Regions from separate parts of the Homo sapiens genome. Here all the other regions are reported to be linked to region 1. Evidence: microRNA targets listed by miRTarBase, many of them from high-throughput screens and not tested one by one. Region 1 holds a microRNA gene; each other region holds the end of a gene's coding sequence.

Region 1 (6,722 bases):
AAGGAGCCGCCACCGGGCATGTCTGCCTGGAGTGCTGTGCTGTGTTTAATCAGGGGATACAGGCCCCTGGGTTTCTTTTTTCTTTCTTCCTTTCTTCCTTGGCCAAGAGAAGGGCTTACAGGCATGGACATGCAGGTTGGCAAACGGGCTTGACTTTGGCTGATTTAAAAAGTGAGAAAGAAAGTAAAAAAGGTTAATTTTTCCTTCCTCTGTAAGATATCCCAGCTTTAAAAAGAAAAAAAAAGAATTACCAAGAGAAGGGGACTTCTCTTCCAGTTTCTGTAAGGTCTTACATTGCCTGACTAAAATGTTTCATTTACCTCTAAATTTCCATATCCTTCTGGCTGTAGATAAATAATGTAGTTTTGTTTATGCATTTGGAATTAGTGGATTTTTTTGTCATTAAAATTGTTACCACTGGTAACATGTGACAAGCACACCACAATTCTCCCTATCTTGTGAAGTTGTTTTTTTAAATCGCCTTGAACAAAAAGTTTTTTTTTTGTTTGTTTTTGCTTTCTGAAATTCACAGAAGCCTAGGAGGACTGGGGTAAGCGGAATAAACTAGAGAAGGGAGACATTGTTTGGATTTCCTTTATACTGTGAAGTTACATGCATAAAAGGGTCAAACCTGTAGATGCAGAAAAAGAAAAAAACTATAAATACAAATCTGTATAAATGTCTATTATTATGAAGAATTGCCAATCTTGTTTTAAGCAAATGCATTCTATCGTTATTATAAATGTTAGTTCTAGCTCTATTTACTTCTAATCTTAAATCAGAATAAATTAATATTGTATTGCTGCTGTGCGTGGAAAAAGACGATGTTTATGTTCTTATAGAATAAAAGCTGTGGAATGAAGCTTTTTAATTTTACCTCTTTTTTGACTTCTTATCTTCACCTTCCACTTTATCCCGTTCACCACTTTTACAACAGGAGGACTAACCCGAGCCCCTGCAATTACTTTAGGCATCTATTTAAATATTACCTAGACGGTCGTAATTTGTCTGGGCCCTATAGCCCTGGTGCCGTAAGGTTTGTCGGCTTTTGTTCAGTTTTATGGCTTGCTAGTATATCTGGATTGTGGCTGTCTTGGACCAGTGATTTCAGTTGAGAGGGGAGCTACATAGACAGAGGAAGCCAAACAGGATTTCTTTCGGGAGCCCCAGGGAGGCTTGCAGAGGCCGGTTATTTTGCGGGTGTCTGGGTCACAGATGACCCTCAATCTGAATCGGGGAGCAGGCCTGGCCCACAGCGCATCTCTAGCCGCTGGAGGCAGCGGTTAGGTGGACCCGGGCTGGACTGCATGGGGGCCTCCCCCTCCCCCAGTACGGCCTCCCCCACCTGGCGGCACTCCTTAGGGCCACGCGTTTCCTGCTTGCCAGAGTGGGGGGGGCGGGGGCTAAGGGGAGGGGGCGCAGGAGCGCGCGCCCCGGCGGGCGGGCAGCTAGGAGGGAGAGGGGGAGAGCGAGAGGCGGGAGGCCGGGGCCAGACAGGGAGCCGGGATCTGTACCGTCCCTGGCGCTTTCGAGCCTTCCACGGCTACCGCCTCTTGGCGCCGGCTCGCTGGGCTGCAAGATTTGGGAAAGCGGCGCGCACACTGCTTCTCGGAGCTGCTCTCGTCTCGCCTGCTCCCCGCCTTTATTCCTCTCTCCCTGCCTTTCCTCCCTCTCTTTTCCTCCCTCTCCCTCCCAGGAATACCTTACTGGGGCCTGTGGCTTCCCCTTCCTTGACGCATTTGCGGCCGCCTGGGGCACTCTGTTGCACTGGCGGGCGCAGGTTGCCTAGGGGCTGGGCTGGGCCGGGCCAGGCGCGATGGCAGGGTTCTCTCCTTGGCGGCGGCGGCAGCGGCGGAGGCGGCGGCGGCGGCGGGCGAGGCAGCCCTTCGCGGGCAGCACCAGAACTGGTCGGTGATTTAGGTAGTTTCCTGTTGTTGGGATCCACCTTTCTCTCGACAGCACGACACTGCCTTCATTACTTCAGTTGAAATCGTCTCCAGGTACCTCTGCGCGCGGGGGTCGGGCCGGGCGGGGCATCACGGCCCTGGTCGTGCCAGGCCTGCGGTGGCAACCTCGGCTTTCCCTGCTCAGGAGCCTCGTGTCTTTCTCCGCAGCGCTTTGCCAGCCGGCCGGCTTTCCCCTTCCACCACACACCTCCACCTGGTCACAGCAGGTAGGGTTAGGTTGGCTGCTCCTTCGCGGACGCCGGGGGCGTGGTAGGAATTCTGGGCTTTGGGCCATTCAAGGTCAGGGGCGCCCGCTTCCATCCTGAGCCTCCCACTGGAGGCCTGCGCCTGCCCAGGGACCTCCTGCCATTCTCTTGTAAGGCTGGAACACACACACACACACACACACACACACACACACACACACCAGTCCCGGGTGTGAGCTCAGGAAAGAACCTCCTTCCAGTGGAGACTCAGGCTGGACTAGGAAGGATAGGGCAGGCTGGGATCCTGGCCTTGTCACTTACCCTTCTCTCTGTAAGCTCGGCCGCTGCTAGGAGTCGCCTCTCTTTTCTTCCTTCTTTTCCCTGTCTTCCCTTCCTCTTTTATCTCTTCTTTCTTTTTTTCTTCTTTCCTTTGCTCCTTCCTGCTTTCTTTTCTTCCGTTGGTCTTTTTTTCATCTTCCGTCTCTGCCAGATTCTATCTCACCTCCTTATCTCCTTCCCAAAGCATCCTTGGGGAGGGGCCCAGAGCTGGCTTCAGGAGAGCCTAGGGGGTCTCACTTTCCTCTGCGGCTCAAGTAGAGGTTGGGAAGTCTGCCGAGGAAGGGCCCGCGTGGGGCGGCTGCCGAGGGCGGTGGGTTTGGGCCTGGTGTGTTACTCTGCAGACAAGGCCTCGGTTATGATCACGACCGGATGGCGGCAGCCTTGCGTTTCTTCGCCTGTCGCTAACGGCTGACTAGGAGATCTGATTAGGGGACATTCGCTGCAGCTTTGTGTGCCCATATCGAGGGCAGGGAGGCCTTCGCCAGCCTCACTGGGGACTGGAGCTGAGGCCCAACCAGCCTCGCTGGAGCCTGGCCATTCGCTGGGAAGCTCTTAGCTGGCTCTTCCCGGCCTGCCGGTCACAGCTTGGGGTTTGACCGCATTGAGGGAGACTGGCTAGGGCAAAGCTTGACTGCTTGCTTACTAGTGGCTTCCATTAGGTACAAAATATGTTCCATACAGCACCTTTGTGCAGCTGGGTGCTGGAGAAGGGGACCCTTCCAAGAGCCAGTATGTTTTAAATGGGCAAAAAGAATCCCAAATTCCAGAGCCATTGATATAAACTTGAGTCATCGTTCCAAATTGTAGTCTACAGATGGGAGCCAGTCTGACCATTTTCCCTACAGAAAACAGAAAACAAACTATCTCTCCCTACTCCCAACACACACAGTTACAGATTCGTGCCCACAAAGCTGTTTCCTTTCCCTGCCTGGACTGGAGGCCCAGGAACTCTTTCGTTGCACAGCCACCGACCTGCTGTCTGAAAGGACCACACACCCCATTCCCTTCAACTCCTCCCTGCCATTTTCTGGACCAGGGCATTGGATTTATTTCAGAGATCACAGTTTCAGAAATCTCAGTCGAGAAGGGGCCGCTTTAAATTATACTCATTTATTATTTCTTTATGCATACGCAATCTCTTTCACTTCGAAAATAAAAGCAGACAAAAAAGTCAGACTATTCTGGCTCCAAACCTTTGGGCTGAAGGAAGACAATATTTGGTTTTCTGATTTTTCTCCGCTTTCTAGGCACCAGTAACATCTGCTTAACACTCAACGCCTGCTAATTGTTCAGTAACTCTCTTATTTTGGGGCTAAGGCTGTTTAAAGGAACAGCTTTTTTACTTAAAAAATACTGAAATAATCAGTGTCTTCTCAGGCATAAAACGTGGAAAAGGCATCCAGACATGCCCAGCCCATTTGCAGACACTTAAAATTGGGAGCCAGGGTTTCCTCCAGGGTTAATTTTTTAAATGAAAATCTCAGAGGCCTGGCGGACTGCGGGGTATTTAGGACACGGTGGACTGTGGTGGGGGTGGGCATGACCTAGAGGAATTTATGGGGCAAGGAAAATATTAGGGGGAGGGAGATGAGGCGGACAGGACGGGGCCATTTCGGAGTTCATTGTGTCGGCCACTTCCCTCTTCCAGGCGCGGGTGCAGGAAGGGGCACCCAGTCGGTATCCGCGCGGCTTGGCAGCCTCGCTGGTATTTGGGAGTCCCAGCCGGAAGTGTGTCAGGGTGTTTGAGGGGGGGATTACTGGAACTGCTGGTGAGGATGAAGGCAAAAGAGAGAGAGAGAGATGGAAGCGCCCGAGGCCGCCAGCCTCGCCGCCAGGGAAGTGGGCTAATGAAAAACACACTGTTGCAGGCACAGTATCCACACGTGAATTTGATTACCCCTGTTCTAGGAGTCGCTGCTTTCTGTTAGGAATTGGGGGCAGGGGGAGTTTCCTTCCAATTAACGGAGTGGCGGCGACCTTTTAATTTACCCCCAACGGGTGAGAAATAAACTTCCCCAACGTGGCCAGGCCCAGGAATGGGACTGGAGTCGATGCCCTTTTACCCCTCCCCGTTCTAATTTCCAGCCCTGGCCTTGAGCTGTGGCTGCCTCTCTTTGGGCCTTGTACCTCTCCGCCGAGTCTCCGGGCCCCGTAGGTAACCAAGGCGAGGCCCGGAGTAGCAGCTGGAAAGGGAGGAAGGAGCCCTGAAAGGCTCACGCGGCCCCGGGACAGGCCACATCGGTGCGGGCCTCCCAGGTTCCGGAGCTGCGGGGTCTCTTAGGCGAGGCTGCCTTTTCCCAAACCGAACTTGCCTTCCATTCATGCCACTTGTAGTTTTTTCCCCAGCTGGGATTCACGGAGCGCAACCAGGCTTGCAGCGCTCATGGTTAGAGCCTCTGAGGCTGGAGCACAGGGCTGGGTCGCCAGCCGCCTGCGCCTGGGAATCCTGATTGCCAGCTGATGAGAAAGGCGGGCTGGGCGCGCGTGTGCGTGGGGTCGAGGGCCGGGGACCGAGCGCGCCGCACAACCAACCAGGCCCTCAAAACCTTCGCCCTGGTGGCGGCTGGCCGCTCCCTCCTGGCCAGCTCCTCCGTGGGGTCCTCGTAGCAAAGGCGAATTTAAGGGTTGCCCGGGCGCCCCTCGCTCCAGGCGGGTAGCTGTGGGGACCTACACCCGCGGTACTCCCTGAGCGGCCGGTCCCTGCCTGGAGTGCCCTGGTAGGGCCGGCGGCGGCTCCGTTTGGGACGGATCCTGCGTTGAATTTGACTTTTCGAGGGCGGCCGCGGGTAAACTCGCCTCTCCCGGGGACCGCAGGGATTATTTACAGGGAGCTCGCCAACCAAACACAACAGTCTAACCTTTCCAAGTCCTCGTAAATTTTTACAGCTGGGAGCCACGGCGAGGCAAACGAATCTGTTGGTCGTTTCCGACTTCCCGCCAGCCTGTGTGGCTTCTGAAACAATAACTCCTTATGAAATATCATAAATATAGATTTAAATACAGTAGAGCGACAATGCGATTTGGCTGCTTTTTTATGGCTTCAATTATTGTCTAATTTTATGTGAGGGGCTCCGCTGGCCGCACTCGCACGCGGGACCCGCGCCTTCTTGATGGCGTGATTAATTGTGATATAAAATAGTCCGCTTAAGAAGTGTGTGTATGGGGGGGGAGACGGGAGAGTACAGAGACAAGGCTAGATTTGATCTTTTAATCGTCGTTGGCCACAATTAAAACAAACCCCATCGTAGAGCGGCACGATCCCTTTACATAAAAACATATGGCTTTTGCTATAAAAATTATGACTGCAAAACATCGGACCATTAATAGCGTGCGGAGTGATTTACGCGTTATTGTTCTGCTGGACGGGCACGTGACGCGCACGGCCAATGGGGGCGCGGGCGCCGGCAACTTATTAGGTGACTGTACTTCCCCCCCGGTGCCACCAAGTTGTTACATGAAATCTGCAGTTTCATAATTTCCGTGGGTCGGGCCGGGCGGGCCAGGCGCTGGGCACGGTGATGGCCACCACTGGGGCCCTGGGCAACTACTACGTGGACTCGTTCCTGCTGGGCGCCGACGCCGCGGATGAGCTGAGCGTTGGCCGCTATGCGCCGGGGACCCTGGGCCAGCCTCCCCGGCAGGCGGCGACGCTGGCCGAGCACCCCGACTTCAGCCCGTGCAGCTTCCAGTCCAAGGCGACGGTGTTTGGCGCCTCGTGGAACCCAGTGCACGCGGCGGGCGCCAACGCTGTACCCGCTGCGGTGTACCACCACCATCACCACCACCCCTACGTGCACCCCCAGGCGCCCGTGGCGGCGGCGGCGCCGGACGGCAGGTACATGCGCTCCTGGCTGGAGCCCACGCCCGGTGCGCTCTCCTTCGCGGGCTTGCCCTCCAGCCGGCCTTATGGCATTAAACCTGAACCGCTGTCGGCCAGAAGGGGTGACTGTCCCACGCTTGACACTCACACTTTGTCCCTGACTGACTATGCTTGTGGTTCTCCTCCAGTTGATAGAGAAAAACAACCCAGCGAAGGCGCCTTCTCTGAAAACAATGCTGAGAATGAGAGCGGCGGAGACAAGCCCCCCATCGATCCCAGTAAGTGTCTCCTCCCTTCAAATCCGCCGCCGCCTCCACGCCGGCCTCCCGGATCTGCTGGCCCGCCAGGTTTCTCTCGAGCCTGCCTTCGTCCTCGCTGGAAGCCTCTCGAGTTGGGGCCAGGAGCCAGAAG
Region 2 (7,342 bases), not on the chromosome of region 1:
AGCACTGTCTTTTCTAATTAGAGAAAAAGACATCAGGGGTATGGGAGAAACCCTTTTCTCTCCATCCCAGCCTTCTATTCTTTTTCTAGTAGCTTCCATCCTTTTCTCTTTCCTTGTTTTCCTTTCTCCTTTCTCCACAGCAGGTGTGATTTATTGGATAGCATGACCAGGGAAAGTGTCTCTTCCTACAGGGGACTGCTCTCCTTGTCTCTTTTGTGTGTGTGTGTGTGTGTGTGTGTGTGTGTTTGTGTGTGTGTGTGTTAAGAACATTTAATGTGAGATCTACCCTCTTAACAAAAATTTTTGTTTTGTTTTGTTTTTTGTTTTTGTTTTTGTTTTTGAGACAGAGTCTCACTTTGTCGCCAGGCTGGAGTGCAGTGGCGCAATCTTGGCTCATGGCAACCTCCACCTCCCGGGTTCAAGCGATTCTCCTGACTCAGCCTCCCGAGTAGGTGGGACTACAGGCGCGCTACCAGGCCCAATTAATTTTTTGTATTTTTAGTAGAGATGGGGTTTCACCATGTTAGCCAGGATGGTTTCTATCTCCTGACCTCATGATCTGCCCACCTTGGCCTCCCAAAGTGCTGGGATTACAGGCGTGAGCCACCACACCCGGCCCTCTTAACAAATTTTTAACTGCACAGTACGATATTGTTAACTATAGGCACTATGTTATACAGCAGAGCTCTAGAACTTATTCATCTTGCATAACTGAAACATAATTAATCAACATCTCCCCACCTTTAACTTTGCCCAGCCCGTGGCAAGCACCATTTTGCCTCTGCCCTTATGAGTTTGATTATTTTGGATACCTCAAAGAAGTGCAATCATGCATTTGTCCTTCTGTCACTAGTTTATTTCACTTAGCATAATGTTCTCCATGTATATCCATATTGTCACAATGACAGAATTTCCTTATTTCCTATGGCTGAATAATATTCTACTGTATGTATATACCACATTTTCTTTATCCATTCATCTATTGATAGATATTTGCATATCTATCAATGCAATTTCCATATCTTGGCTATTGTGAATAATACTTATAAGCTTATTGTGAATAATATGCTTATAAGCATAAGCAATGAACACAGGCGTACAGATACTTCTTCAAGATCCTGATTTCTATTCTTTTGGATATATGCCCAGAAGTGGGATAGTTGGATTATATAGTAGTTCTATCTTAATTTTTTGAGGAATCTTCATACTGTTTTCCACAGTGGCTATCCATTTTACATTCCCACCCACAGTATACAAGGATTCCAATTTCTCCACATCCTCAGAAACAATTGTTATATTTTGTTTTATTGAATAATAGCCATCCCAATAGGTGTGAGGTGGTATCTCATTGTGACTTTAAATGACCTTGTCTCTATCATAAGGAAGTGGTTCTCTAGATAGATCCCTCCTAGCTGTGTTCCCAAGCTTGCTGGGGCATGAATACCCCAAGCTCCTTCCCTGGAGATTCTAACTCATCAGGTCTGGGGCAAGGCCTTGAGATCTGTATGTTTCACAAGTGTCCCAGGTGATTTTTATGAGCCTGCAAATTCTGGAAACACTGCCTCTCCCTCCGAGAAGAAGACCTAGTTCCTGCCCCTGCGGTGGGATGCTGGCAGTTCTGGCTGGGTAAACTCAGTCCAGTGGGGATGGTGTTCACAACTGAAGCTGCAGGAATCAGCCCTCCTTTCCAGACAGCTTTATTTGTTTCACTGTTAAATGTTTTAAGCCTAGTTGTTTGAATAAAAAGTTGACTTTCTATTTTAATTGTGCAAATATAAGCATACTTGTCACTTATTTTGGGTAAACCTACAAGTGCCTGATTTACTACTTCTCAACTGGACCACTATATAACCACTGGCCAGCACTTCCATCTCGTAGCAGCATCTCTAATCCCAGGTTTTGTTTAAAATATGACAACCTTTTCTGATCCTCTTAATAATCTAAGCCAACCACTGAAAATCATTATTCCACAGCCACCAGCAGCAAGGAAAATGGCCAAAATAAACATGTCATTTGTACCATCCACCGACCTTCCACTCAATCCAGATGTTTAAATGGGTTTGTACAGAAATGTACTCTAAGTATAATCTTTTCCTTTAAGAAATCATGTGTCCCAAAAAGGACCACAGAGATACTGTGTTAAGCCAAAATTCACATACATGTCATCCTCACGGACCTCTGAGAAATGAAAATATGGGTCTGTTATTTGGGAATTTATTACACTACAGTTTGAAGATTCAACCTATTAGCCATGGTTTAGTTAAGACTATAGATTGAGTAGCCCAAGGCAATAATGGCCACTAGTATCACCCATGTGCTACTCAGTTAAGTGGCCTACGACGTATTCTCAACAAATAGTTTGTCAAGAATACAAAGACAGTAATGCCACACCATGCTCACTTACTCCCAACCTTAGAAACACTTACAGCAAAGGGCTGCTCTTAGAAAAGGAAAACATCCCTTATGCAATATCAGGATGTCTCTACTCGTGAAATTACAAATCACTTCTGAGTGTCATGATTCTGAATTCTATTTTTAAAATCTGACCTTGAGCTAATTTGCCAGTTGCTAACTTCTATTTGACTGTACAGAGCTTTTCACTTCTCTTGATCAGTTTCACATATTTGCTTACATCTCTTGGCAAAAAGAGTTAAAATTATTTGATGAAAATGTTCTTGTGAGCCAGACATTATTCAAAAACGGATTCTAGGAAGGTTTATTAGTTCCATAGAGGTGATACTCAAATGTATGACTGTAAAGGAAATAACTGATAACTGAGATGGGGAAGGAAAGAACTTGTGTGTGAGTAAGAGAGAAATTAGAAAGGCATCATTCATTTAACAAAGATGGAAATTCACATCAAACGTTCCTTGACCAGGCAGCTATTCCCTGCTATTCCCTTAGAACCTTTGTTTTAAAGAAGGACCCTGAAATGTCACTGCTTCCACCAAAGTCTATGAAAAGGTTACTGAACTGAAGATAAGGGTGCATGGCTGGGTCCAAGTGGGTTCTCACGCTGATTCTCTCTGGGTACAACTTTGGAAAATCATTTCACTTCTCTGCTTCAGTTCCATCTTCAGTCAAATGGGAGAATAAAAACATATGTCCTACCTCACATAGTAGCTCTGAGGAATAACTGTGCAACTTTTCTTGAACATAGTAGACAACTTCTAATAAACACCAACAAGTACTCCACAGTGACAGCACTATTAATAAATAACTTTTATTCTTCCATGGCAATGAGCCAAGCCTTTACCCCAAAACTCAACTACAAATCCTCAATCCCTAGATTCAAATAGCGCATTGGAATATCCTATTTTGTATAGGGCAGGGAATTACATTCCAAGGGAGATGAGAAATGATTGAACATATTTCAATATCCTCATAGCGGGGTGCCCTGAGAGAGGCTGGTTTCCCATGAGCTCTGTTGTTCACCAGGACTCTGGCCACTGGGCAGACAAACGATAGAATGTCTATTTTTCTAATAAAGCCATATAAGGACCAATGGTAGCCCACCTTTTCCATGGTGGAGTCCACAGATGTGGAAATACAACACTCTGAATTAGTCACATTAGCAGCCACATAAGCATAGAACCAAATGGCAGACAGAAATGCTCTGAGAGCTTACCTACCCTCATCTCATTCTTGAATTCTTCTTCATTTTTTCTCGGCAAAATCAACTAGCACACAAAAAGAATATCTCTTAATCATAAACATGTATGACATGTATGATTGAGTCTGTTGGACTCAATCACACTATTTAAGACAGCAAACGTACATTAAGACTAAGAGTCAGTTTAATGTATTATTTCTAGTGCATTTTTTTCCTCGCCAAGAATAAAACGGAAGGTGAGAATAATAAAACTAGGAGACTGAAGTACATAATGCAAAATACATACAAATCTACATATAATCCTAATATGCTGAGAGAGCTTCTTAATGAAAATGATTTCATTCTGAGTTACTGCTAGTTTGATGCAAATGCAGTATGTACCATGGCCCACAACCCTGTGGTTTCAAGTAGGTAGAGTATATCTTGAGAAGTTATTCTTTGTTAAGATTTATATCTCAGAGTCAAGCATGCCTTGGTGGCAACAATCATTATTCTCAATGCAGGTAATTCAAACCAAGGAAAAGACACTGTGGAAAACTACAAAATATTTACTCTGCCTAATGTAGCAACTCCTACTGAAAAACATATATGTTGCATATTTATGAGTTGTAGCCCACGGTTGTGGAAAATTCACTACAGAATAAAACCAAATACTGCATGATACGTTTAGTATACAACATGCCATTTCTGCTCAGTACAAGAAAAATCTACTACCCAGCACCCAGCAGACACTAGGACTAACGGCCTGATAGCAGCAATGTGGCAGGTTGTTCTTTTTTTTTTTCTGCTCCAAAATAAAAATTAGAATAGTAGCATCGTTGAATATCCCAATTAAAACCCAGTCCAATTCAAAATTCATCTTCAGAGCTGTCGGCTAAGAGCATTACTCGATCTTGCATGCTGTTGAATTCTCTCTGCTAGAGAAAGAAAACAGAAAAGCATTAAACTCTTTCTGCCACAGAGCAAAGCTGAGAAACAGGCCCACTTTAAAAGACATGCTAACAAACGAAGCCAAGGCAGGAGCTACAGCAGCTAATCCAGACCACTGGGCACGTCAATACCACCCAAGCATCATTAAACCCCGTGTGCTTTATTAAGTAAATTAGATAAGCAAAGAATGTTCTGAAACTGATTAGGTTTTGCTGTTGTTGGTTCCATACCTTTCTTTTATGCCTTTTGAAGCCATTTCTCCTTCGGCGATTCATAACCTTAATGCTGTAGAGGGCTCCCAAGATGAACAAGGCTCCAGCTATCCCAACCCCTACAGGCACCAGCATCCCAGACATGTAACCAGCCTGCATAGAAAAGGAAACACACATTAGGATGCTAAACAGAGCGCGCCGCCCTGGGTTTCTCATTTCTGCTGGATGGCAGCAGGTTTTTAGACACTTTGAATTCTCCTGTCTGCTTTGTTGTAAGATAAAACTAAGCCTAAAATACAGTAACTTTTTAGGGAGAAGGCAACAGAGAGAGAGACAGGCCTATTTTGGGGATATTTCAAATACATAGAAGTATTGAAATAAATCAGCCAGACCTAGTGGCACCTCCAGCCACTAGCTTATGCACATTTGTCAACCTCAGGTTCTGATGACAGAAATATAATTTGTATTAAAGATGGATGAAGTAAGCCTCTGAGAATGCCAGGACTACTAAAATGCTATAAATTGGAAATATCAGCCAGAGTCAAGCTTAAAGGAGGTCAAAGTGTCCTCTGGAATAGTGTGTTTGCTGGGGGCTAAAAGGAGGGCCTTGACAGTGGTGGTCCTCTCTTCTCCCTCTCTGTCTGTCTTGGCTGCATTACAGTAAGAAAAGAAAGATGAAAATGCTTGTGGGTAAAAGGGGAGGGCTTCTGAAAACAAGGAAAAAAAAGGCCTGCAAAGGCAAGAGGAGGAATGTTAGATGTTGGAGCAAAGGCAGAAAAGACAAGGACAAGGGGAGAGTGTGCACACAAAATGGATGGACTGATTTCTGTGAATGGAATCACCTTCCCAACAGACAAGACAAAGTTGGAGGTTGGGAGGGAATTCTGAATGTCCCAGCCCCAAAGAAAGGAAGTGGCAGAGAAGTACACAAAGATCACTGCCAACAACACGATACCTCCAAAAGATCCTGGAAGTGTCAAATTCATCGATGTCTCCAGGGTCTCCAAGGTGTCACTATGGATACCTTTATCCTCAGAGAGCAGGATGATCCCTGGACTTGAGTAAGTACCTCAGGACCTACCTAAGCTCAGGGAAAGGCCATTGTACTCAGAGTGATCCCTACACCTTGGCCAATAAGACTCCTATGGGCTAACAGGGTATGTACTAACCTATAGCCCTTTCATGGGGGAACACAGGTAATGGTTTGCCTCCCAAGAAGCCCTTCTTAGAAGTCTACCCATGCAAAATACATAAACAATTTAAATTGTTCATAAGTCTATTCATTTATATGACTATTTTTTAAATTTTTAATACAGCACAAACTGTTTTAGTATTTTTCAAAGTGAGCCAAAAATGGAGCAGGACAGAGGATAAAAGTTTTCCTGAAAGTGCTGAAGTATGCAGGCTGTGATGTTTTCCCAACATTTCTAGCAGGACATCCAAAGAATACATCAGAGTTTATGAAACAGCAGCACTTTCCTCTTGTGCTCAGCCAGCTCCCTCACTGTTTCTGCCTCCCAGAGTCTTCACTTAGGGCAAAATATGGAAATTCTTCCATTAATTTGAGAACAATAGCACTGTTCCTCAGCATACTAAGTATTTTTCCCCAAGAAACAAAGCCTAGACATTTTTCAATAAATTAATATGCCTTCTTCTCACTCATAGGTGGGAACTGAACAATGAGAACACTTGGACACAGGAAGGGGAACATCACACACCGGGCCCTGTCGTGGGGTGAGGGGAGGGGGGAGGGACAGCATTAGGAGATACACCTAATGTAAATGACAAGTTAACGGGTGCAGCACACCAACATGGCACATGTATACATATGTAACAAACCTGCACGTTGTGCACCTGTACCCTAGAACTTAACGTATAATAAAAATAAATAAATAAATAAATTAATTAATTAATATGCTTTGTAGAAGCCCAAACTTTTTCTAAAGTTCTTCCAAATCTACTTAAGGCTTATAAAAACTCTGCAATTTTCCATGTGGGAAAATACTGAACAACATCAAAGTGTTGGTGCTCACACAAGAACTGTGAATTATTTTTCATGACCATTCCCAGTGTATGGAAACACACACATGTTGAAATATGATAAACTTTAAGCCCAGATGATTAGGCTTCTCATGTACAGTAACATTTGAACTTTTGGAAGGTCAACTTGATCAGCCTCTGTGCATGTCTCCTCATACTCTGTAACTTAACCCCATACCAACAACATCGGTACTCTCAAATATGTCACCATTTCTGCATTTCTTATTGACACACTTAAGCCTTTTACTTATGGAGCTTTATTTTTTCAAATTTATATTTATATTTGTAAATTGACATATAAAACTGTACGTACTCATCATGTACAACATGATGTTTTAAAGTATACTTTCATTGTGGAATGGTTACATTTAGCTAGAGCTCTAAATTATGTAGATTTCACAAAAACTCAGTTACATCTCTCTTTTTTGTCTCCTCTGTTTTGTTTTTCTTTTTTGGTGGCATCTGCCTTGCTTTGAAATTACAAGTAAATTACAAGATGGGAGCAAAGCAACGTACCATCTTAAGATATAATTTAACTATTCTTCTT
Region 3 (7,342 bases), not on the chromosome of region 1:
ACCCATTTTGGGTAGGTGGGTAGCTAAGACACAGGGAAAGAGGGGATCCTGCCCAAGTGAACTGTGTGGGAAGGGTTTGTGGAGGGATTGGAAGGGGTGGGGAGAAGCCAGTATCTCCCCTGGGGACGGGGATACCATGCCCCCAGGGACCTTTCCCCCTTCACCAACTTTAATCTTGTATTTCCTTTTCCAAAAAGCCAAGCAGAAGCAAAAGCAGGTGAGTCAAGGAAGGGACCTGGGCTGGGGGGATCATGGCTTATGGCTCTGGGGACAGTGTTCTAGGCAGTCATTGTTGGAGGGCAGAACAGAGAGGGGAGGGAGCCCAGAACCTCTGGATCTGCCCTGACGCCAACCAGGCATGAGACAGGCACCAGGGCCATGGTTTCTACTGACCTCATGTCCATTCTGCAGGCGGAACATGTTCCCCCATATGACGTGGTGCCCTCCATGCGGCCTGTGGTGCTGGTGGGACCCTCTCTGAAAGGTTATGAGGTGAGAGGAGGTCCTTGACCCCAAAGAGTCACCTCTACCAAGCCTGCCACAGGAAGTCCCTAGGGAAAGTGGAAGGGGTGTGTCTCCTCCGTCCAGGGTGTGTATGTGGAGCGCATTGACTCTGGGGCCATGCATGGGGAGGCTGCTTCTCTCCAAAGGGGCCCTTCATCAGTGCCATGCCTTCCCCCAGGTCACAGACATGATGCAGAAGGCTCTCTTCGACTTCCTCAAACACAGATTTGATGGCAGGTAAGCTGCCCTGGCCTGAGGTGGCCTGAGAACCAAGGAGAAGCTCATGGCCTACTTCCAGATGCCTGTAGCTAGTCTTCTCTAAGGGAAGAGTTAGTGGGAGCTGAGTAAGGAGAGGCTGAGGCACAGGTTTAGAAGCAAGCTGTGATTCTCCACTCCCACCCCAGGATCTCCATCACCCGAGTCACAGCCGACCTCTCCCTGGCAAAGCGATCTGTGCTCAACAATCCGGGCAAGAGGACCATCATTGAGCGCTCCTCTGCCCGCTCCAGCATTGGTGAGAAGTCCCCACCACCTGCTTCTGTGCCCACTCAAGTGCCAGTGAGAACCTTCCTCCTCCCTTTTCTTTTTTTTGAGATGGAGTCTCGCTCTGTCACCTAGGCTGGAGTGCAGTGGTGAGATCTCGGCTCACTGCAACCTCCACCTCCTGGGTTCAAGCGATCTTCCCATCTCAGCCTCCTGAGTAGCCGGGACTACAGGCGCCCATCACCACGCCCAGCTAATTTTTGCATTTTTAGTAGACGTGGGGTTTCACCATGTTGGCCAGGCTGGTCTCGAACTCCTGACCTCAAGTGATCGGCCCACCTTGGCCTCTCAAAATGCTGGGATTACAGGCATGAGCCACCATGCCTGGCCCCTCTTCCCTTTTCTCTTCCTTACCTCCTTGTCTTTCTGCCCAACTCCTCTACCTGCCCCCAGGATTGGCAAGAACACACCCCTCCTCCTCAATTCCCATTCCTCTGCCTGTCCAGGCTTCGATGAATGCCCTTTTCCTCCAATTCCTTCCTGTCCACCATTCGGGAGCCCTCAAAGCCTGCTGGAGTGAGCAGTGGGCAGAGCTCCTGGTGAGCACTGCTGCTGCCTCCCTCCATAGCGGAAGTGCAGAGTGAGATCGAGCGCATATTTGAGCTGGCCAAATCCCTGCAGCTAGTAGTGTTGGACGCTGACACCATCAACCACCCAGCACAGCTGGCCAAGACCTCGCTGGCCCCCATCATCGTCTTTGTCAAAGTGTCCTCACCAAAGGTAAGTCAGCTGGGCTCATGGAGGAGGCCCACAGGGCTATCCTACTAGAATGTGGCATGATTCTACTTGGTCCCTGCCTGGGGCACCTGAGTTCCCTTTTCCTGCTGCCCTTAACACAACTCTGAGTCATCCTCACCTGCTACTGATGCCACAAGTGGAAGAAATGCCTAGCTCTGCCCGGGCTCAGCTCTGCCCAGAGTCCTGAGAGACTCCAGGCCTAGCTCTGCCCTCCCCGCTCAGGTACTCCAGCGTCTCATTCGCTCCCGGGGGAAGTCACAGATGAAGCACCTGACCGTACAGATGATGGCATATGATAAGCTGGTTCAGTGCCCACCGGTGAGTGCCTGGGTCAGCTGCTCCTGTGCCCACTCCCCCAGGGCTGCGGCAGTGATAGAGATGGGTGGGGGGCTGCTACTGAGGGGAAACCAACGTTGCGCCTTCCTCCCCCTCCCCAGGAGTCATTTGATGTGATTCTGGATGAGAACCAGCTGGAGGATGCCTGTGAGCACCTGGCTGAGTACCTGGAGGTTTACTGGCGGGCCACGCACCACCCAGCCCCTGGCCCCGGACTTCTGGGTCCTCCCAGTGCCATCCCCGGACTTCAGGTAACCATTTCCAGTGGGCAGAGATGCTCAAGCTAAGCCAGCCAAGGCACTGCCCCTCCCTGCCCAGAGGACTGTCCTTGGCCTCCAGTTCAGCATGCCAAAGGATTGTAGAACTCTCAGCTCTGCTGTACAGAGCTAGCACAGACGGGCAAAGGAACTTCCTGAGGAGAGAGGGAATCAATCAATGAGATGGATACGTCAGAGATTAGTTTCCTAGGGGTCAAGAGAAACACAATCTCCAAACCTTCTCCCAGGCTGCCTTGAAGGCAGAGCCTGAATTTTGCGGGAGTCGAAGCTCCAGTTTTCTCTCTCGGAAGAGGAAAAATGCTCCAGCATGCTTTTTCCTTGCACTATTTCCTTTACCGGGGAATTGAGAGTTGAGGGGGGAAGAATCTCGCACCTCACCAGAAGACAAGGTGAGGTCTGTACTGCCTCACTGAGAGCTGTTGTATGGCCCCCAGAACCAGCAGCTGCTGGGGGAGCGTGGCGAGGAGCACTCCCCCCTTGAGCGGGACAGCTTGATGCCCTCTGATGAGGCCAGCGAGAGCTCCCGCCAAGCCTGGACAGGATCTTCACAGCGTAGCTCCCGCCACCTGGAGGAGGACTATGCAGATGCCTACCAGGACCTGTACCAGCCTCACCGCCAACACACCTCGGGGCTGCCTAGTGCTAACGGGCATGACCCCCAAGACCGGCTTCTAGCCCAGGACTCAGAGCACAACCACAGTGACCGGAACTGGCAGCGCAACCGGCCTTGGCCCAAGGATAGCTACTGACAGCCTCCTGCTGCCCTACCCTGGCAGGCACAGGCGCAGCTGGCTGGGGGGCCCACTCCAGGCAGGGTGGCGTTAGACTGGCATCAGGCTGGCACTAGGCTCAGCCCCCAAAACCCCCTGCCCAGCCCCAGCTTCAGGGCTGCCTGTGGTCCCAAGGTTCTGGGAGAAACAGGGGACCCCCTCACCTCCTGGGCAGTGACCCCTACTAGGCTCCCATTCCAGGTACTAGCTGTGTGTTCTGCACCCCTGGCACCTTCCTCTCCTCCCACACAGGAAGCTGCCCCACTGGGCAGTGCCCTCAGGCCAGGATCCCCTTAGCAGGGTCCTTCCCACCAGACTCAGGGAAGGGATGCCCCATTAAAGTGACAAAAGGGTGGGGTGTGGGCACCATGGCATGAGGAAGAAACAAGGTCCCTGAGCAGGCACAAGTCCTGACAGTCAAGGGACTGCTTTGGCATCCAGGGCCTCCAGTCACCTCACTGCCATACATTAGAAATGAGACAATCAAAGCCCCCCCAGGGTGGCACACCCATCTGTTTGCTGGGGTGTGGCAGCCACATCCAAGACTGGAGCAGCAGGCTGGCCACGCTCGGGCCAGAGAGAGCTCACAGCTGAAGCTCTTGGAGGGAAGGGCTCTCCTCACCCTGCCAGGAAGCTTCTTAACATGTGACAGGACCAGGGACCAGGAGCATGGTGAAGCCAAGTGGCAGATGGGAGCCAACCTGGATGGGGGTTTGGGGAAGGAGGGCATGTGTAGCAGAGAACTTAGGGGGGCCTCCTTGCCTTTCTCATTCTTTTGCCCTGCATCCTGTCATTTCTGTTCTTGTCCCTCATACATCTTTGGAGAACCGGGCTCCAGACTTTGTTCCCTGACTCATAGCTGCCGCTTGTTAGGTTAGGGTTAGATGGGGAGAGACAGGGCACAGAGGACCTGTCTCCCCGGCTACTCTTGCCTTATGGCTCTAGTGTGTGACCTACAGAGCATGCTCCACAAGCCCCTGCCTCACCTCACTGTCATCACTAATAAACATCATGCACAGTCCCTCCGGCTTCTGTTCTGTCTGTGATGCGGCCCAAAGTCTGGTGGAGGGAAAGATGTGTTTGGGCCGCCCTTCTCTCAGAGGATCTGTCCAGCGGGAAGGGGACAAAGGCAGAGCTGGGGAGGCACTCCACTCCCAGGCATCCCCACTCCTCATGCCCAGGTGTCAAGAGGGAGACATCCAGCAGCACGGAAGGGCTTGTCCTGGGATGTGGGGAAGACGCTTGGTCACGGCTTTACAGTATCCTTGCGCCAGGCCAAAAAGGCCCTAGAAGCAGCTACAACTTGAACTCTATGTACTAGGCCAACTCTTTCTGTGGGGTAAGAAGAGCATGTGAACAAGAGGGGTATGGGGGGAGGACTGCAGCCCTGCGTTCCTCTCACCACAGCCTGATACAGCTGGGTCCACCCGTTCTGCACCATCCCCTCCCAGGAGCAATGGGTCCAACTAGGGAGCCACAAGCAAAGCTCCCGAGACCAGGCGTTGGGCACACAGCGGCAGAGTGGTTCCAACTGCCTCACCTGCCAAAATTTCACAACTGCTTTCCTTTCTCACCTTTGCCTAAAGCTCCCTAGAGGGTGTCCAGGCCAGGGCCACACATTACGCGAGGCTAGAGCAGGGGCGGAAGATGCATTACAGTCCTGCGTGGCTTCTGCATCTCCTCTCAAGTCCACCTACAGACTCAAGACTATCAGCAGAGACCCCTCTACTCTTCTCTTAATGTGGCTGTCTCTCATTTTCCAAGCCAACCCACCCCGCACCCAGTGGTGTCCCTCCTGCCAGGGAGAAGCTGGGAAGTTTAACTAGAACTAGATCTAACAGTCTTAATATTCATGTATTTATTCTCAGAACATACAAACTTATCTTCTCAGAGAATAGAAAACAGAGATTTCACTCAGTGACAAAGATGGACACAGCCAGTTCACCGTGTCCCCCCATCTACTTAGAAAATCCCCTGGGGGAGGGGATGCCTAGAGCATACAGCACCCCTTGGTGCGGGGCTGTGCACAGGTCTAAAGACTCTCAACTTCCTTTACCATCCAAACAGGAAAACAGCTGTCCAGATGACAGTAAGATTCCACTGTCTGTAATCCTCATGGTGCCAGGTCTCCTGGGGCATCTAGGGCAATGATGCTACTGCAGTTTATGCAGTTACACAGTCAAGTCTGTGCCAAAGGAGGTCCCATCCGGCGGCCAGGTTTCTGTTCAGTCTGGGGAGCAATGCCAACTGGCTGCCCCCATAGCCTGGCATGAGCTGATGGCCCAGTGCAATCCCAAAGCAAAGAAGGGCAGAACTGGGCCAAGAAGCTGTGGTAATTTGCTCTCCCTGCCTCCGACAGCGTCGTCCTCTCCTTTTGCAGCCCCACACGCAGGCCTCCTGACCTGAGGGTCTGGGCTAGGGAGTTGGATTGTTTTCCTAAGCCCCCATATCCCAAGAGTGAGGACCTGGAAAGAGGGATGTGAGGGTTCTGAAAAACAGGCATCAGGCAGCTTTGGAGATGCCCTCAGCCCACAGGAAGAGTGCTGTGTCAGGCAAAGATGGTCTCTTCCCGGCGCTTCTTGGTGAGGATGGTGCCTGGCTTATGCTGGGCATCTGGGTGGTTGGCTAGTTCGGGGGGACAGGAAGACACTGGGCTTTCCAGGATAGCTTGCTTCAGCTCGTAGAACACAGCAGAGTCCTCTTTTGTGAGGAAGGTGATGGCCACCCCACTCTTGCCTGCTCGTCCCGTGCGGCCAATGCGGTGGATGTAATCTGGGGAATGGGAAGAACGTCACTCAGCATAGCCCAGATGCCCTGGGGAGCCGTGTCTGATGCCTCCACTTCTAGAGGCATCCTTCCCACCCCATCTCCAAAGGCAGGAATACAGCACATGCTGCCTGAACCTGAGGCGCCCACAGTGCCCTCTCCAGGTGCCCATCTCCCCTGTCCTCCTACTGACTGTGGTCCCTACCACACTAAGACCCACAGCTGCCTAGCTTCATTCTTCACACTCCTGAGGACACAAGTGTCATCCCAGCTGCTGGGACAACAAACCCAGGTAAGATAAAGGACAGGAGTGCTTCTCATGGGAGCAAGCAATCCCAGACTTGGAACTGAGGGAGGCAGTAACAGCCTTCCATGGACAGCACCCTGACTTCCAGTGGGACACCATAAGGAATCTGACTTCACCCTGGATTGAAGCTGCTTTCCCTGGAACTTACCTTCAATATTTTTGGCCATATCATAGTTGACAACCATAGACACATCTTGGATGTCAATACCACGACCAGCCACATCTGTAGCCACCAAAATATCCTTGGCCCCAGCCTTGAGGTTGGACAACGCAAACTCTCGCTGCTCCTGGCCTTTTCCACCGTGCAGTGTGCAAGCATTGTACTGTTGGAAGAATGGTGAAGTGAAGAGTGAGCAATGCAATCAAGGAGAGACACAGGAGTTCAGAGGAATGGGACACAGATGAAGGGAGGGTTGGAGAGAGCAGCAGAGTACGAGAAAGGAAAGGAAACAAGAGAATGATTGCAGTGAAAGAAGGAGAGAACAAGTGAGCTGAAGAGAGGGATGAGAGAAAAAGGTGTGGTGTGGCAGGGACACACAGAGTAAGGTCAAAGGCAAAACAGCTGGGAGAGCGGTGGAGCCAGACAGATGAAAAGTCCTCAAAGAGAATTAGGGGCGAGATCAGGGTAGAAAGCAGGGATCAAGAAGTTTAAGGAAGTTGGAGAGCTGAGTGACAGGGACACACCCCTCCCCTCAAGCACCAGTGACAGGAGTAAAGGACACTGATTATCAGCTCCCTTCTGACCATATCACCTCCTCTCAACGTACCTAAGCAGTTTTCACCTACTCTTTTCTACATCCTCAGACTGCCAGGATATGGGTCTCAAACCTTTCCCTGGCTCCACCTCACCAGGATGAAGACCCAAGGCAGCTTTGGCTGGCATTACTGCAGCAGACAGGGGGTCCCAGCAATTGATTCCATTCTCTTTATTCCCTCAAACCACCCTTCACCCTGGTCCTAACTTGTTGATTGCTGGACAGGCTAAAGAAAGGGTGAGACTTGAAAGGAAGAGCCTAGGGGGCCCTGCTAGATTCAGAAAGCAGTGCCACAGAGGCTAGACTTTGTTCTCCCCTGCCAGACACACCCCCATCTTCTCCAGG
Region 4 (7,292 bases), not on the chromosome of region 1:
TAAAGCAGCCCAGGTAGTTTGTGATTTCACAGCTTGTAATGTAGAAGAAAGGAACTAACGATGGAGCAGCAACTGCAAGCCAGACCTTGCTGAAAGTTTTTGGGTTTTTTTTGTCTTTTTTGCTGCTGAATGTTTTTAGGTACGTTGTTCATTGAACCTTCTCTTGAGCTCTGAGGATGGTATTAGTAGTCCTGTTTTATAGATGAGACAGGCTCAAAAGTCAAGTCCTTTGCCAAGGTCACGTGGTAGATAAATGGAGGAATACGTTATCTCCAAGCCGTGCCCCTTTTCTGCACCATGCTGCCCCACCTGACAGCCTAGTCATGGCTTCAACTAGGACTGTTTCCTAGAGGGGGCCAGCTTTGGACTCGGTCTGCTCTCAGCCTTGTTAAAGTGTTTGCCGCCAAGTGGTGATGGTAAGTGGGAGGTTGATGGGGCACGGCACTGAAGGTCTCATTTCTTTCCCTAGAAAACAGTCCGGGATAAAGAACTGGAGGGCCTGCAGGTAAAAATCCAACGGCTGGAGAAGCTGTGCCGGGCACTGCAGACAGAGCGCAATGACCTGAACAAGAGGGTACAGGACCTGAGTGCTGGTGGCCAGGGCTCCCTCACTGACAGTGGCCCTGAGAGGAGGCCAGAGGGGCCTGGGGCTCAAGCACCCAGCTCCCCCAGGGTCACAGAAGCGCCTTGCTACCCAGGAGCACCGAGCACAGAAGCATCAGGCCAGACTGGGCCTCAAGAGCCCACCTCCGCCAGGGCCTAGAGAGCCTGGTGTTGGGTCATGCTGGGAAGGGAGCGGCAGCCCAGCCAGGCCTGGCCCATAAAAGGCTCCCATGCTGAGCAGCCCATTGCTGAAGCCAGGATGTTCTGACCTGGCTGGCATCTGGCACTTGCAATTTTGGATTTTGTGGGTCAGTTTTACGTACATAGGGCATTTTGCAAGGCCTTGCAAATGCATTTATACCTGTAAGTGTACAGTGGGCTTGCATTGGGGATGGGGGTGTGTACAGATGAAGTCAGTGGCTTGTCTGTGAGCTGAAGAGTCTTGAGAGGGGCTGTCATCTGTAGCTGCCATCACAGTGAGTTGGCAGAAGTGACTTGAGCATTTCTCTGTCTGATTTGAGGCTCAGACCCCTCCCTGCCCTTCAGAGCTCAAGACAAGTAATACACCCAGGTCTTGACTGCATTTGTCTTGTGAGCAGGGCTTGCTTGGTCAGCTCAGGCCCTCCTAGCTGCTCTGGAGGCTCCTTTGATTCTCTAGACCTGGAAAAGGTGTCCCTAGGCAGAGCCCTGGCAGGGCGCTCAGAGCTGGGGATTTCCTGCCTGGAACAAGGGACCTGGAGAATGTTTTTGCGTGGGATGATGTGCTGGTCAGGAGCCCCTTGGGCATCGCTTCCCCTGCCCTTTGGTAGTGCCAGGACCAGGCCAATGATGCTTCTCAGTAGCCTTATCATTCACAGGTGCCTCTCTAGCCTGCACAAATGATTGACAAGAGATCACCCAAAGGATTATTTCTGAAGGTGTTTTTTTCTTTATTTCTTTTTCTTTTTTTTTTTTTTTCTTTTTCTTTTTTTTTTGCACATGACAGTGTTTGTATTGAGGACCTTCCAAGGAAGAGGGATGCTGTAGCAGTGGTGCCTGGGTGCCTGGCCTCCAGTGTCCCACCTCCTTCACCACCCCACTTGGCTCCTTTGCCATCTTGATGCTGAGGTTTCCTGTTTGGTGAGATCAGGTTGTTTGTGGTAAAAGAAAGGAAAGGGCTTCTGATGGCTTTGCCACAAGCTTACCTGTGGGTTTCAGTCCTGAGAGGCCACCACCAGTTCCCATCAGCACTGTCTCCATGCAGCAGTTGCTGGGTCCCATGTCCAGCTGCCTCTTTGGCTTCATGGGTTTTTCTGCTTCCTGCCCCCACCCCCACATGTGCAATCCTCAAGATTTGTCCTGATTCTATTTCCTGGCACCTCCCTGCCTGTCCTTGGGGATTCTACTTCTTCCTGTGTGGGAGCCCATAGCTGTTGTCTAACAGGTAAGAAATGAAATTGAACTATTGACTGGGCCCCAGAAATCCATAAAATGGCTGCAGACAGTTGTTTCTGTGTCCTGTTCTACCCCCACTCCAGTACATAACTACTATGTACTGTGTAGAGCCATTCTATATGCTGAATGTTCTGCTGTTGCAAACTTGCCAGGGTATTAGCCAGTGTTTGTGCCAAGCAGTTTTCTGGGACAACAGAATGACTCAGACCAAGATGGATAGGATGGTTAGGGCTTTGCTTCTTGCTGTTTTTCTTTGAAGCTAGTTCATTGTCCTGCAGGTCCCTTCATCTTCCATACCTAGCCCACTCTTTTAGCCCTTACCTTAAATCTCTCAGATAAGTTGGTTCACAAAGAATGTTAAGTACTGAATCATGTGTGACTGAGACCAGAGATGGCAAATGAATGGCACACCATTTCTCCTTCTCCTGCCCCAGGGCAGGTACCACTGATCTGCATCAGAGTTGCCTGCTATTCTCTGGTGTATCCTTCACATCTAGGTGCCCTCAAGCAGCTGTGTGAGTGTTGAGATCTCTGCCATCTCTGGCTGAGATACTGCTGTCCTGTGAAGTGTTTCCCATGACCTTTTTCTTCCCCTTTGAATCCCTCTGTCTGGAGTAGTCCTTGCCTCTTCCTGCTCCAGTAGGGCCTTTTCCCTACCCCAGCCCCTGTGCCAGGCTAAGCTGGTACAAGAGCTGCCAACCTCACAGAGTGTTTGCTAGGCGAGAGAGGTGCAGGGAAGAGGCAGAGGTATGCACCTTCCCCCTTGAAGAGAGGGGAAAGGCCTACAGTGGCCCACATAATTGCCTGACTCACACTTCAGCTACCTCTTAATGCCTGTGGAGGGACTGGAGCTGCTGGATCCCAGTGTGGTGGTGTAGGAGGCCACAGTGAGCAGGTGGCCCCAGCTGGGTTTCCCAGGTCAGGAATGTGGGCCCCAGGCAAGGTGCAGCCTTTGCTCACAGCTCCATCCATGTCTAGACCTTCAGGCCAGTCTGCAGATGAGGTTCCCTACCTTTTTCTTCTCTTCATTGACCAAATCAACCAATCACTACAGCTGCTCTGCTTCTGCTTTCCAAAGTAGCCCAGGTCCTGGGCCAGATGCAGGGGAGGTGCCTATCCATGAGTGAAGGCCAGTGTCTTCCTCACCTGGGTGGGTCCCACACTTGTGACCTCAGTTTTAGGACCAAGATCTGTGTTGGTTTCTTAGATTGCTAGCTTTTCCTCCAGGGGACCACAGCAGGTGAAGCTCAAGAGCGCATGGCTCTGCTAATAGTAAATTGTTTTCAGGGCCTTGTCCAGCTGAGAGCTTCATGTCCACCAGATTCTGAGAGGTGTCAGCAGCACTTTTTTTTTTTATTTGTTGTTTGTTTTCCATGAGGTTATCGGACCATGGGCTGAGCTCAGGCACTTTCTGTAGGAGACTGTTATTTCTGTAAAGATGGTTATTTAACCCTCCTCCACCCCATCACGGTGGCCCTGAGGGCTGACCCGGAGGCCAGTGGAGCTGCCTGGTGTCCACGGGGGAGGGCCAAGGCCTGCTGAGCTGATTCTCCAGCTGCTGCCCCAGCCTTTCCGCCTTGCACAGCACAGAGGTGGTCACCCCAGGGACAGCCAGGCACCTGCTCCTCTTGCCCTTCCTGGGGGAAGGGAGCTGCCTTCTGTCCCTGTAACTGCTTTCCTTATGGCCCAGCCCGGCCACTCAGACTTGTTTGAAGCTGCACTGGCAGCTTTTTTGTCTCCTTTGGGTATTCACAACAGCCAGGGACTTGATTTTGATGTATTTTAAACCACATTAAATAAAGAGTCTGTTGCCTTACTTGTTTCTCTCCTGACCTGTGTATTCCTTTGTTTCTGGATCTGATCCATTCAGCCCCTTCCATCATCACTGACTTGTTCAGGTCTGCTGCAGAGCGCCCATGGTGGTTCCCTGGTATCTTACATATTCCACAGTGTCTTTGAGCAGTCGCCACAGCCTCAGGATGCTGGCATATTCACTTGAGCTGCCTGAGTGGAGCCCTTGGCAAAGTTGGCAAGACCCTTGCCTCAGAGAGGATCACACACACACAAAAAAGTTTTCCCTGACCTGGGGGCTCACAGGCTAGTGAAGGGAAAAGGTACTTTTAGCTATAGACAGGTCAATGGTGCTGAGAGCAGAGAGGAGGCCCCTGCCCCCTTCAGCAAGGTGAGGGGGTGATACCTGGAATGGCCTTCTGAACCACAGGGCAGGTAGAAGATGAACGTCATTTAGTGATTAAATGGTACAGCTGGGAAGCAGGTCCATGGGACTGGGAGAGGGGGTGAGGCTGGGCCCAGAGTCTGGGTACCAGGTTAAGGAATGTGGGCTAGATCCAGAGGGCAGGGGGGGCAACTGAAGGTGTTTCAATAGGAAATTGATAGGCTCCAGCAGTAAGGCAAAAGGCATGGAGCCAGGCATAGGCCATTTGAGGCCCAGGTTAAGAGGGGTGGACACTCATCACTGCTATTTGGGTCTGAGCTGTGGGTAGGCTCCTATAGCCCTGGCCTGCCCAAGGGAATTCACAGGGGCCTCTAATTGTATGCATTCCTTAAGGAGAGCACATTCTCTGTTCAGTTTTTACACCCCCCATTTACCCACCTCAAGCATGGGACTCCTATATGGGAGACATGCTGCTGGTGGCCTCACCCAGCACCCTGTTCTCTCTGGGTCCTGGGTTGGTCAGGCACAAAGGATGATATGTGCTGAATGCCCAGGAAATGGCAGAGACAACCCACCTGCCCTTCCCTCCAGGCCTCCACAAATAGATGTGCCCACAATGACTGTGACAGTCCCAGCAGAGCCTCTGACCCTTCTAGCTGGGTCCTGATACATGTTTTCCATGCTGGCCATGTTATTTCTAGTCGCAGATCCTCTGGAGGGTGTGGGGGGGGTGCCGCCCCAACTCTTGGAGATTCCAAGCAAAGCAGCTCTGAGAATAATGAGGTTTCTGACCCCCCAGTGAAGCAGCTGAGGATGGGAACCACAGGGGTGCTCCCTCTGTCAGCAGCATTACCACTGTCTACTCTAGCAGCTCCGGTGGGGAAGGAGAGGGATTTCTGTTGTCCCCAGTCTGGGCCCCTGGTTATTGAAAAAGTTCGGAATTACTCTTTACCCTTGTGGAGTGTTCTGAGTGTTGGAAGTACCCAGGAAGAAGCCCTGAGCAGGTGCCCTCAGGAGCAGTGCCCATGGCTCCCCACATCAGCCAAGAGGCCCAACCCCAGGAAGCCACTCCTGCCCGGGGATGGGGAAGGTGGGCTGGGTGGCTGTGTGCACTGCCCTGGGCCAGCTCACTTGAGCCTGCTGAGCCGCCTGGCCAAACATGAGCCTCTCTCCTGTTGTATCAGATGCTGTTCTGGGGACCTGCGCCAGGAGCCTCTGCCAGGGCTTTAAATAGCTGCCCCCATTGATCTGGCTGCAGGCAGCAGCAGTCACACTGGGTCAGCCTCCATCAGGTGCTCAGGTTTCCCTGAGGACTGGAGTCAGGTGCCAGGGAATCGCGTGGTCTACCTTATGACCTGGTGCTCCCCACACCTGTCTCCTAGGCCTGGGGGGTGGGGAGGACTCCTGTCACTTCATCTGCGGCAAAATACAGCCCCCACCACTTACCAGAGAAAACTGTCTGGCATTGTAGAGAGAGGGGTTTTGCCCTCAAAAGACTGTTGCTTACTTTCAGTAGAATGGGGAATGACACTGGTATCTTCCTTAAGGGTTGTTATGGGGATGAAATGTATGTAAAGTGCTCAATAGGGCACTGGACTCACTCCATTGATGGCTGTCTTTGCTCGAAGTGTCTTCCTGATGCTGCTGCTGTTGCTGCTTGTGCTTCTTCTGTGCTTACATTCTCTCTCTCTCACTCACTCACTCTGTCTCTCCTCTCCCCCGCCCCACCCCCTTTCTGACAAAGCCACCACCATTTTGTAAGGAACTGTAGCTTCTCTCTGAAACTGCCGGGAAAGGGAAAATCTTTTTAAAATAGACATCACACAACCAACAGGGTCCCCTAGGTTCAGGCGGGGAGGTGAGGTCGAGTGAGAGGAACTGCTTAGCATACGCGGGGATGCTCCTCCCATCTCACCCCACCGCGCTAAGGAGAAGGTCACTTTCTCTTTAAATGCAAATGAACTCCCTCCAGCTTAGCTTTCACCCGGTGGTGTTCCCGGGAGGAGAGGGCGGAGGGCGGAGGGAACTTGCACCGAAGCATCACTCGAGACCCCAAACCTCCAGGTCAGTAGCCCCCTGAGGGAGTGAGGGCGGGGGCGGAATGACGCGGGTCTGACGCTCTGTCTTCGAGCGCGGCTGCGGAGCTGAGCGATGAGTTTGGCACATGGCTTTGGAGCCCGGGCTTGGGAAATAGATCCCCGGTCGCCCCAGCCGCTCCTGGGGAGCACAGGCTCCGGCTCCAGTTCTTCTATCAGGTCCCTAATTGGGTCAAGCTGCTGCACGGAGAGGCAGAGGATGCGCTCCTATCTCCCCTCCCCACACCCGCAGACCCCGTCAGTGGCAGCCAGCTATGTGTCAGTGTAAATGCTTAAGCGCCACCCACCCCCCCAACCCCCCCAGTCCCAGAATTCGAAGTTAGGCTCGGTAGCAGCAGCCTGGAATGAGACCCCCAGAGGAGGGAACCCCAGCCGACCGGAGGCTTGGGGGGCGCTGCTGGACCGGGGACCTCGGAGCAGCCCAGCCACAGGCGCAGCCTTTGTCGGAGGCCCAGGCAGCCAGCGGCCAACCACCCAGTCCACCCTGGCTGCAGCTGAAGCCCAGCAGGGACTTTCCGACTGGGAAAAATGAAGCAGCTGAAAGCACACCCGCGGGACCTATAGGGAGTCCCTAATATTTTCGGTTGGGGGTGGGTGGAAGTGGAGGGATGCCGGTGTCTATGTGGGGGAAACCCACAATGAACCCTGCCCTGTATGCTGCGGCTTCTCCTACAATTACCCACACGCTGGGGCTTTCCCAGGCGCCCCTACCTGCACCTTGTCCCCCTCCCATGCTGACAGGGTTTGTTAGCATCTGCTTAGGCCCCTGATAAATAGAATAGGGTTTAGTTAAGACATCCCTAATCTTCGGCTGGGCTTCTGCAGCTCACCTCCGTCTTGTCTCCCACTACATTTCCTCTGCCAGCCCCGCCCCCCAGCCACCGTGACAGGAAGCCCCAGTAGCGCCAAGATAGTTGTGACTGGTCCCACCCTTTCAGGAGGGGCCTAGGTTTTCAGGCAGAAGGGGAATTAGGTTGGGCCTT

The links. Region 1 holds the annotated microRNA hsa-miR-196b-5p (UAGGUAGUUUCCUGUUGUUGGG, at 1,918-1,939, shown strand). A microRNA usually pairs through its seed, bases 2 to 8, with sites in the 3' UTR of a target mRNA and lowers its output. Matches are read on the target gene's strand: a 7mer-m8 pairs with bases 2 to 8, a 7mer-A1 pairs with bases 2 to 7 and ends in A, and an 8mer does both.
Region 2: the mRNA of ARMH4 is a reported target of hsa-miR-196b-5p. Seed matches in the 3' UTR shown: 7mer-A1 at 4,022-4,028.
Region 3: miRTarBase lists CACNB3 as a target of hsa-miR-196b-5p. The part of its 3' UTR that is shown has no 7-base or 8-base seed match.
Region 4: miRTarBase lists TXLNA as a target of hsa-miR-196b-5p. The part of its 3' UTR that is shown has no 7-base or 8-base seed match.

What each region holds. Positions count from the first base shown.
Region 1 is chr7:27,164,745-27,171,466 of GRCh38, reverse strand. MIR196B (microRNA 196b) reads left to right here and starts at 1,904; the gene lies at 1,904-1,987. It overlaps HOXA10-HOXA9 (HOXA10-HOXA9 readthrough), which reads left to right. Exons shown (of 3, transcript NM_001433944.1): 2 at 6,500-6,589. It overlaps HOXA10 (homeobox A10), which reads left to right. Exons shown (of 2, transcript NM_018951.4): 2 at 1-862. It overlaps HOXA10-AS (HOXA10 antisense RNA), which reads right to left and starts at 2,568. Exons shown (of 3, transcript NR_046609.1): 1 at 2,474-2,568; 2 at 1,703-2,160; 3 at 1-159. It also overlaps HOXA9. RefSeq lists enhancers at 1,702-2,292, 2,293-2,883, 4,073-4,791, 5,640-6,516, 6,517-6,722.
Region 2 is chr14:58,000,275-58,007,616 of GRCh38, forward strand. ARMH4 (armadillo like helical domain containing 4) reads right to left here. Exons shown (of 8, transcript NM_001001872.4): 7 at 4,774-4,908; 8 at 487-4,530. The coding sequence ends at 4,462. Among named protein-coding and RNA genes, the nearest start is that of SLC35F4, 140 kb to the left of the region's middle.
Region 3 is chr12:48,824,752-48,832,093 of GRCh38, forward strand. CACNB3 (calcium voltage-gated channel auxiliary subunit beta 3) reads left to right here. Exons shown (of 13, transcript NM_000725.4): 6 at 198-217; 7 at 412-492; 8 at 683-741; 9 at 909-1,018; 10 at 1,616-1,767; 11 at 2,008-2,103; 12 at 2,223-2,372; 13 at 2,834-4,190. The coding sequence ends at 3,148. It overlaps DDX23 (DEAD-box helicase 23), which reads right to left. Exons shown (of 17, transcript NM_004818.3): 15 at 7,327-7,342; 16 at 6,391-6,565; 17 at 5,005-5,941. The coding sequence ends at 5,718. Among named protein-coding and RNA genes, the nearest start is that of CACNB3, 9.9 kb to the left of the region's middle.
Region 4 is chr1:32,194,433-32,201,724 of GRCh38, forward strand. It overlaps TXLNA (taxilin alpha), which reads left to right. Exons shown (of 11, transcript NM_175852.4): 11 at 470-3,853. The coding sequence ends at 763. CCDC28B (coiled-coil domain containing 28B) reads left to right here and starts at 6,163. Exons shown (of 6, transcript NM_024296.5): 1 at 6,163-6,277. RefSeq lists enhancers at 4,822-5,380, 5,381-5,938, 6,151-6,230, 6,489-7,008, 6,921-7,140 and 1 more.